Linked DNA regions of Homo sapiens: region 2 is linked to region 1. The links come from fine-mapping of genetic effects on gene expression. A gene starts in region 1. The other region holds a variant in brackets. All regions are shown on one strand. Distances are from middle to middle. Region 1 holds the start of LRRC55 (leucine rich repeat containing 55). Region 2 overlaps LOC105369310 (a long non-coding RNA gene).

Evidence for each region. PIP is the estimated chance that this variant, and not a neighbour inherited with it, causes the effect.
Region 2: its variant is fine-mapped to the expression of LRRC55 in iPS cells (PhLiPS, PIP 0.95).

The regions. Positions count from the first base shown.
Region 1 is chr11:57,178,917-57,184,131 of GRCh38, reverse strand. LRRC55 (leucine rich repeat containing 55) reads right to left here and starts at 2,179. Exons shown (of 2, transcript NM_001005210.4): 1 at 1,449-2,179. The coding sequence starts at 2,109. The region is part of intron 4 of LOC105369309 (a long non-coding RNA gene); the gene reads left to right. RefSeq lists a silencer at 1,483-1,777.
Region 2 is chr11:56,938,466-56,943,680 of GRCh38, reverse strand. All of the region lies in intron 1 of LOC105369310 (a long non-coding RNA gene), which reads left to right. Among named protein-coding and RNA genes, the nearest start is that of OR5AK2, 48 kb to the left of the region's middle. The variant C/T (reference allele first, on the strand shown) is at 2,880.

The DNA of each region.
Region 1 (5,215 bases):
GAGAATTTCCTCCTACAGCTCTGTGGAAACACTGGAATCGTGACCCACAGCCCTCCCCAAACTATTTTGGTCTTGGGCTCCCCACTCAGTCCTCCTCTCCCTTTTACCACATTCAGCATTGCTTCTTCTCAACATGGGCTGAGCTCAGGTTCTGGGAAAGCCCCTTGGATAGGGCCTTCAGCTACTACTTCTGGGTTCTTGTGCCAAGTCTTGGTGTTGTCACACAGGAGAGCTGGTGGCTAGGGCCACAGCTGAACATTGCCTGCCTCTGGGTCAGGCTCAGATGCCACTGGGTTGGGATGCCCATCAAACCTATGTGATTTGGGCTTCTTCAGGCCCCAGTCCACCCTCCAGTTGGGATTGGCTGGTTGAGTTGCCGCATCTCAGTCTTCCTTTCAGCTCCCTACCCTGTGCCCAAAGTTTACACTGCTCAGGGCCTTGAGTTTGAGGAAAGCCAGGTTCTCGTAGCTGAGATCCAGGTCTTGGAGCTGCATGAGGTCCTGGAACTCTACTGCAGCCCTTTGGCCAGTCCAGGACTCAGGTTCTGACTCTTCCGGCAGGCCAGAACCTGACTCTTCAGGATATAGTCAGGGAGATTGCCAGGACTCAAATCCTGGCTTCAACACTTAGCAGCTGTGTAACTTCCAACAAGCTACTGAACCTCTCTGTGCCTCAGCTTCCTCCTCTGTAGAGTGGCAATCTCATTAGTGTTCTTCTGGGGATAGGAAGAGATAGGTAAAGCTGCTTAAGAGAGGGCCTGGTAAATAGCAAGTACTAAGGTCTCAAGTTCCTCCTGGAACATATTGGCTGTCACGCAACTTAAGCTATTGCAGCTCTGTTGAGATTGTGTTAGTCATTACTATTTATACGAGAGTTTCCAACACTTGGAATGCTAAAAAAGCATTCTGGTAGATTAGAACAGGGCTTAGAAGTCAGATAAATCTAGGTTTTATTCATGGTCCTGCCACTTTTTAATTTTTTAATTTGTATTTTTTTCATGGCCCTGCCACTTTCTAAGTGTGTGATTCCTGTCAAGCCTTTTTATTGTTCTAAATCTCAGTTTCTTCACCTGGAAAATGGGTATAATAAAAATGGGGGTCTCATGAGATAATGGATGCCAAGATCTTAGGTCATGGTGAAAGCTCAATAAAAACCACCAACCATAGGCTATTCTCACTTGTCTACTATCCGTCTGCCTCATTAGGTCATGAGCAGCGCAGTGGTGAGGGACATCTATTTAATGAATGAATGGGCCCTCGGTGCCTCACATGCACTGGAAGGATTCTACAAACAACCTGTTGGCCGAGCTGGTGTACAAAGAGGCAAGCCCACATTAGAAAATGCAGTAGGTGCTTTCTGGCTCTAAGTTCCCCCGCTTTCTTTGGAGCCTTTGCTTCCCATTGAGGCAAGCCCTCCCTGTTGACTGCCCCGTTCTGCCCCTCTATTACCTGCTGTACAGCGCTGGATCCGGTTTCGCAGCCACTTCAGCAGGGGTTCCATGGTGCAGCCACACACCCAGGGATTGCCACCGATCTGCAGGGTCACCAGCCCCGGTAGGCCCTCAAGAGCCTCCAGGCTGAGGAAGGCCAGGCCCCCATAACTGAGGTCCAGGTCTCGGAGCTGCATGAGGCCCTGAAAGGCCTGGGGATGCACCCTCCGCAGCCAGGGGTTGTGGCTCAGGTCGATGTGGACTAGCCCATGGGCCTCCTGGAACATGTCGGCTGGCACATGGCTGAAATTGTTGTAGCTCAGGTCCAAGTGTGCCAAGCGCTTGGCATGGAGGAAGAGGCCCCGGGGCAGCTCCATTAAGGAGTTGTTGTGCAAATCCAGCACCTGGAGCTCCATGTAGCATGTGAGGTAGCCAGGCGGCACTGCTGTGATGCGGTTGTGGGCCAGGCTGAGGTTTCGGGTGTCCATTGGCAGGTCTGGGGGCACGGAGAATAGCCGCTGGCTGCTACAATCCACCACCTGGTTACGGCATGTGCAAAGGACGGGGCAGCTGGTGCCGGCATCCGAGTGCATCAACCCGGCTGCCAAGAGGAGGGAGATCAGCAGCATTGCTGGGTGGGGTGGCCCGGGCCAGGGAAGCTGGGCCCAAGTGTCACCCATCTTAGGCAGCAGGCAACAGCAGTGCTGGAGGGAGCCCATGAGGACTGTGTCCATGGAATCGAGAGTCTGTGACACAGGAAGGCAGCTACATCTGGGGCCAGCGTCTGTGAAGGTGGGGCTTCTGAGCATGTGGTATCATGGCTAGGGACTTTCCCAGGAGCCTCTGAGCACCAGAGGGCTTCCTGAGATCCACGGGAGGTCCCCTTCCGGAGCCTAGGGGGCAAGACACCCAGTTGAGGTCCCCTAGGGTCTGGAATGATGATCAAAACCTGAGAAAGGGAGGGGACAAGAATGGGGCTAGGTCAGCTGCCAGCAAGTCCTGGAAGAGTTCCTGCAGATCTTTTGTGTCTCTCTCACCCATGCCTGCTGGATGTTTCCTCTTGGTGCTGTGTCTGGGAGGGAGGGGCTGAAGGAGATGAAACGTGCCCTTTAAAGATCCTTGGCACTTCTTCTGAGAAAACTTAAGTCCTGTCCCACGTCTGGGACTGATTAGGAAGCCGGGGCTGCACCTGGGTCTTCAGTGTTGAAGGTCTCAGAGGCCATTTGTCCTGGTGGCCTGGTGGGCTGGAGTCCAAGGGGGTCCCAGGGTGGGTGTTTTGGGAAAAGGGCCCGGGAGGAAGTGAGTCTCCATGGGCCTCCTAAAAGCCTGAGAGTCCTCAGCCTCAGTGGCTGCTGGAATCCCCAGGAAGCCTCTTTTTTTCCCAAAGAGAGGAGGACCCCAGGTGATGCCCACTGTCTGGGCCTCTGGGGCCAGAAGAAGTCATGAGTCCTGAAGGTGCAGGCTGAGTGTCAGCTGGCAGAGCTCTGGCATCTTCTCCAAGCCAGTGCCTTCCTCAGCGCAGTTCTGTGTTCAGCAGGTGGAGGCCAAATTCCCTCTGTCAACAAGGAAAGCACTCAGGCAGAGAAATCCTGTGCCCTTGACACTCCCTTGTCCCTTCACCTAGGACGCTTGGCTTATCTTTGTCTCTTTCCTTTGCTCCCCCAACCACAAAGTTCTCTGCTTACTGTCTGTCAGGTGTGGGCCATGGTAGGTTCAGACCCCAGGCTCACATTGCTGTTACCCACGAGCCCTCCCTGACCCAACCTGCAGCCATCCTCCTCTGGGTTCCTGTCTTGGGTTAGATGCATTTTCTTCTTCTTCTCATAACCCCACCCTCATTAGTACCAAACACGCCACCCTTGAACAACTCCCTAAGAAAAATCTGCATCCACACTCTGGGGGTTTGCACACCCCTTTCAAACACTCTAAGCACTCCTCTCTCTCTCACACGCACACACACACACTCACTCACACACCATTCTGTGACTCCCCCGTATTTTGCCCTGCCCCGTGCTCACGCCTCGCGGTTTTCGCTCCAGCTTCCTTCTGCACAGGCGATTCTGCAGACCCCTCCCCAGTCGACCCCCAGCATCTTTCGCCCCCCTCTCAGCGCACACCCTTCATCCCAGCATCCCTTTCCACACACTGCACTCTCCTCGCCGCCCCCAGCAGAGGGACCGAGAGTGATGCCACGCCCAGAGCCTCAGCCCTCGCGCCCCGCGCCCTCTCGCTTCTCCCTTGCCCACCTGCTGTCCTCGGTCCTCCCCTCACCCTCGGCCTGGCGCTGCCTATTTTCCTACCGCTTCAAGCCTCAATCCCGCCCACCTGGAAATCACCCCAGCTCCCCTTCATGCAGACTCATTTTTCTAAGCCCCAGGTCTCCCCCTCGCACTCCCACAGGCCCCAGGAGCCTACTCACTCCGTTCCAAGGACACAGCCATCAATCTGCGGCAGACGCGGGTCTCCCTCCCTCCTCCTGGAATCCCCGCTTGCTCCTTGCTTGCTTCAGAACAGATTGCCTCCCAGGCTGTTCCCCTCCCCCGGCCTCTCCTCCTCCTTGTCTCCCGGATCCCAGGCCAGCATCTTCTATGATTTCCCGTCCTGCGGTCCCCCTGCCCCTTCTTTCACCCAAAGGGAAATCACAGAGACAGGATGCTCGGAAGAAAGTTCACAGAATCTGAATGCTTCTTTCTGAAACTCAGCTGGTGCCCAGGCTGCTGGGGTATAAGGCTTCCGCCAGAGCCAGGTCTTCCCCCTCCCTCCCCCCTTCCCACCCTCTCTCTCTCCCTCCCTCCATCCCTCCCCCAGTTCTCTCCCTTTTTCACTCCCCTTTTTTTTCCTCGAGGGCCAGGTACTGACGTTTCGCTGTCTCTTAGCAACTGCCTCCACATTTTTGAGCAACAGGAGAACTGGCTGTGGACCCCACCACAAAGAGAGAGGAGAGAAGGAAGCACAGGGCAAAATTCACAGCCGCCCACAGGATCCTGGGGATAGAGCGAGGAGAAGAGGGGGAGACAAGGGTGGGCAACTGGACAGGGGCAGAGAAAGAGGATCAGGCAGGGCCCAGTGGGAGAGGTCGTAGTAGGGGCAAGGTGTGGACCTGGAATCGGAGACAGAGGAGGGATGGCTTAAGGGCATCAGATCCAGAAGAAAAAACTAAGAGGGCTTGCAATGAATGGAGAAAGGGACTTAGTGGGGGATGGGGCGAGTGAAGAATGGGGACATTGAAAACATGAATAGGAATGGAAACAAAAAAGGGATGTGAATATGATAAGTTTGCTCACTTGATGGGATATATCTTTGTAGTCACCATATAATATCTACTTACCTGGGTTGGAAGGTATTTTGGGCTCCAGCTACCAGGTGATTGGCTCAGGGCTTGTTAGGGACCATTATTGCAGGAAAGACCTTTTATATGTTCCCTGATTGTCCCTAAGTCCTGACCCCATGGGCTTTCTGGGGCTAGGAGGCTTGGCTGGAGTAGACCAATTTCCCCTTGGCTTGGGATATGAGAACTTTTGGGGTCCAAAAGGCCAACTACTTGGCCAGGTGGGGGCACCTGGGGCTCTACAGACACTTGGGTCTGTTAAGGGGAAAGGAAGCTTGTGATCCTTTCTTCTTTCTCCAGGCCTAAGGGATTCTGTCTGTTGTCTTGTTCCCATGCTTCCAAGCTTCCTTGGAGTGACTTCAGATGAGGATGAAATTTGTGCAATACCTGTTTTCTTGCTCACCCATTAAACAAGTCTCTAGCTGTCCTGCATTTTAAAAATTGTCTTGACCGGTTGG
Region 2 (5,215 bases), 240 kb after region 1:
CTCTGCACCAAGCGGACCTAATAGACATCTACAGAACTCTCCACCGCAAATCAACAGAATGTACATTTTTTTCAGCACCACACCACACCTATTCCAAAATTGACCACATACTTGGAAGTAAAGCTCTCCTCAGCAAATGTAAAAGAACAGAAATTATAACAAACTATCTCTCAGACCACAGTGCAATCAAACTAGAACTCAGGATTAAGAATCTCACTCAACATGGGCAAGGACTTCATGTCTAAAACACCAAAAGCAATGGCAACAAAAGACAAAATTGACAAATGGGATCTAATTAAACTAAAGAGCTTCTGCACAGCCAAAGAAACTACCATCAGAGTGAACAGGCAACCTACAAAATGGGAGAAAATTTTTGCAAGCTACTCATCTGACAAAGGGCTAATATCCAGAATCTACAATGAACTGAAACAAATTTACAAGAAAAAAACAAACAACCCCATCAAAAAGTGGGCAAAGGACATGAACAGACACTTCTCAAAAGAAGACATTTATGCAGCCAAAAAACACATGAAAAAATGCTCATTATCACTGGCCATCAGAGAAATGCAAATCAAAACCACAATGAGATACCATCTCACACCAGTTAGAATGGCAATCATTAAAAAGTCAGGAAACAACAGGTGCTGGAGAGGATGTGGAGAAATAGGAACACTTTTACACTGTTGGTGGGACTGTAAACTAGTTCAAGGATTGTGGAAGTCAGTGTGGCGACTCCTCAGGGATCTAGAACTGGAAATACCATTTGACACAGCCATCCCATTACCAGGTATATACCCAAAGGACTATAAATCATGCTGCTATAAAGACACATGCACACGTATGTTTATTGCGGCATTATTCACAATAGCAAAGACTTGGAACCAACCCAAATGTCCAACAATGATAGACTGGATTAAGAAAATGTGGCACATATACACCATGGAATACTATGCAGCCATAAAAAATGATGAGTCCATGTCCTTTGTAGGGACATGGATGAAATTGGAAATCATCATTCTCAGTAAACTATCGCCAAGAACAAAAAACCAAACACCGCATATTCTCACTCATAGGTGGGAATTGAACAATGAGATCACATGGACACAGGAAGGGAAATATCACACTCTGGGGACTGTTGTGGGGTGGTGGGAGGGGGGAGGGATAGCATCAGGAGATATACCTAATGCTGGATGACGAGTTAGTGGGTGCAGCGCACCAGCATGGCACATGTATATATATGTAACTAACCTGCACAATGTGCACGTGTACCCTAAAACTTAAAGTATAATAAAAAAAAAAGAATCTCACTCAAAACCGCTCAACTACATGGCAACTGAACAACCTGCTCCTGAATGACTACTGGGTACATAACAAAATCAAGGCAGAAATAAACATGTTCTTTGAAACCAATGAGAATAAAGATGCAACATAGCAGAATCTCTGGGATGCATTCAAAGCAGTGTGTAGAGGGAAATTTATAGCACTAAATGCCCACAAGAGAAAGCAGGAAAGATCCAAAATTGACACCCTAACATCACAATTAAAAGAACTAGAAAAGCAAGAGCAAACACATTCAAAAGCTAGCAGAAGGCAAGAAATAACTAAAATCAGAGCAGAACTGAAGGAAATAGAGACACAAAAAACCCTTCAAAAAATTAACAAATCCAGGAGCTGGTTTTTTGAAAGGATCAACAAAATAGACTGCTAGAAAGACTAATAAAGAAAAAAAGAGAGAAGAATCAAATAGATGCAATAAAAAATGATAAAGGGGATATCACCACCGATCCCACAGAAATACAAACTACCATCAGAGAATACTACAAACACCTCTATGCAAATAAACTAGAAAATCTAGAAGAAATGGATAAATTCCTTGACACATACACTCTCCCAAGACTAAACCAGGAAGAAGTTGAATCGCTGAATAGACCAATAACAGGATCTGAAATTGTGGCAATAATCAATAGCTTACCAACCAAAAAGAGTCCAGGACCAGATGGATTCACAGCCAAATTCTACCAGAGGTACAAGAAGGAACTGGTACCATTACTTGTGAAATGATTCCAATCAATAGAAAAAGAGGGAATCCTCCCTAATTCATTTTATGAGGCCAGCATCATCCTGATACCAAAGCCGGGCAGAGACACAACCAAAAAAGAGAATTTTAGACCAATATCATTGATGATCATTGATGCAAAAATCCTCAATAAAATACTGGAAAACCGAATCCAGCAGTACATCAGAAAGCTTATCCACCATGACCAAGTGGGCTTCATCCCTGGGATGCAAGGCTGGTTCAATATACGCAAATCAATAAATGTAATCCAACATATAAACAGAACCAAAGACAAAAGCCACATGATTATCTCAAAAGATGCAGAAAAGGCCTTTGACAAAATTCAACCACCCTTCATGCTAAAAACTCTCAATAAATTAGGTATTGATGGGACCTATCTCAAAATAATAAGAGCTATCTATGACAAACCCACAGCCAATATCATACTGAATGGGCAAAAACTGGAAGCATTCCCTTTGAAAACTGGCACAAGACAGGGATGCCCTCTCTCACCACTCCTATTCAACATAGTGTTGGAAGTTCTGCACAGGGCAATTAGGCAGAAGAAGGAAATAAAGGGTATTCAATTAGGAAAAGAGGAAGTCAAATTGTCCCTGTTTGCAGACGACATGATTGTATATCTAGAAAACCCCACTGTCTCAGCCCAAAATCTCCTTAAGTTGATAAGCAACTTCAGCAAAGTCTCAGGATACAAAATCAAGGTACAAAAATCACAAGCATTCTTATACACCAACAACAGACAAACAGAGAGCCAAATCATGAGTGAACTCCCATTCACAATTGCTTCAAAGAGAATAAAATA[C/T]CTAGGAATCCAACTTACAAGGGACGTGAAGGACCTCTTCAAGGAGACCTACAAACCACTGCTCAATGAAATAAAAGAGGATACAAACCAATGGAAGAACATTCCATGCTCATGGGTAGGAAGAATCAATATCGTGAAAATGTCCATACTGCCCAAGGTAATTTACAGATTCAATGCCATCCCCATCAAGCTACCAATGACTTTCCTCACAGAATTGGAAAAAACTACTTTAAGGTTCATATAGAACCAAAAAAGAGCCCACATCACCAAGTCAATCCTGAGCCAAAAGAAGAAAGCTGGAGGCATCACACTACCTGACTTCAAACTATACTACAAGGCTACAGTAACCAAAACAGCATGGTACTGGTACCAAAACAGAGATATAGATCAATGGAACAGAACAGAGCCCTCAGAAATAACGCCGCATATCTACAACTATGTGATCTTTGACAAACCTGAGAAAAACAAGCAATGGGGAAAGGATTCCCTATTTAATAAATGGTGCTGGGAAAACTGGCTAGCCATATGTAGAAAGCTGAAACTGGAACCCTCCCTTACACCTTATACAAAAATTAATTCAAGATGGATTAAAGACTTAAATGTTAGACCTAAAACCACAAAAACCCTAGAAGAAAACCTAGGCAACACTATTCAGGACATAGGCATGGGCAAGGACTTCATGTCGAAAACATAAAAAGCAATGGCAACAAAAGCCAAAATTGACAAATGGGATCTAATTAAACTAAAGAGCTTCTGCACAGCAAAAGAAACTACCATCAGAGTGAACACGCAACCTACAGAATGGGAGAAAATTTTTGCAACATACTCATCTGACAAAGGGCTAATATCCAGAATCTGCAATGAACTCAAACAAATTTACAAGAAAAAAACAAACAACCCCATCAAAAAGTGGGCAAAGGACATGAACAGACACTTCTCAAAAGAAGACATTTATGCAGCCAAAAAACACATGAAAAAATGCTCACCATCACTGGCCATCAGAGAAATGCAAGTCAAAACCACAGTGAGATACCATCTCACACCACTTAGAATGGCAATCATTAAAAAGTCAGGAAACAACAGGTGCTGGAGAGACTGTGGAGAAATAGGAACACTTTTACACTGTTGGTGGGACTGTAAATTAGTTCAACCATTGTGGAAGTCAGTGTGGCGATTCCTCAGGGATCTAGAACTAGAAATACCATTTGACTCAGCCATCCCATTACTGGGTATATACCCAAAGGACTATAAATCATGCTGCTATAAAGACACATGCACACGTATGTTTATTGTGACACTATTCACAATAGCAAAGACTTGGAACCAACCCAAATGTCCAACAATGATAGACTGGATTAAGAAAATGTGTCACATACACACTATGGAATACCATGCAGCCATAAAAAATGATGAGTTCATGTCCTTTGTAGGGAAATAGATGAAGCTGGAAACCATCATTCTCAGCAAACTATCGCAAGAACAAAAAACCAAACACCGCATGTTCTTACTCATAGGTGGGAACTGAACAATGAGAACACTTGGACACAGGAAGGGGAATATCACACACCGGGGCCTGTCATGGAGTGGGAGAAGTAGGGAGGGAAAGCATTAGGACATATACCTAATGTAAATGACGAGTTAATGGGTGCAGGACACCAACATGGCACATGTGTACTTATGTAACAAACCTGCACATTGTGCACATGTACCCTAGAACTTAAAGTATAATAGAAAAAAAATAAAGTTAGCTGAGGCTGGGCGTGGTGGCTCCTGCCTGTAATCCCAGTATTTTGGGAGGACAAGGTGGGCAGATCTCCTGAGGTCAGGAGTTCAAGACCAGCCTGGCCAACATGTTGAAACCCTGTCTCTACTGAAAATACAAAAATTAGGCAGATGGGGTGGTGCATGCCTGTAATTCCAGCTACTTGGGAGGCTGAGGCTGAAGAATCGCTTGAACCCGTGAGGCAGAGGTTGCAGTGAGCCGAGGTCGGGCCATTGCGCTCCTGCCTGGGTGACAGGGCAAGGCTCCATCTCAAAAAATAAAATACAATAAATAAAATAAAATAAAATAAATAAAATTAGCCATCTTTGCTAATCGTTGACTTCAAGTTTTGGTTGGAGATTTGAGCTTCTGTTGTAATGTTTTGGATACAATTACTGGACCTAGGAAGTCTTTATAAAACATGGACTGCTAAACAGTTTGCTGTAATGAAATGTAGCTAGTAAGTTTTGTAATTAGTAGATAACATTCGAATTTTCCATGTGCAGACCTTGTTCACTAATTAAACAGCTATTTTAATTACCACCTATTAAATTCCTGACAATTAACAGATACT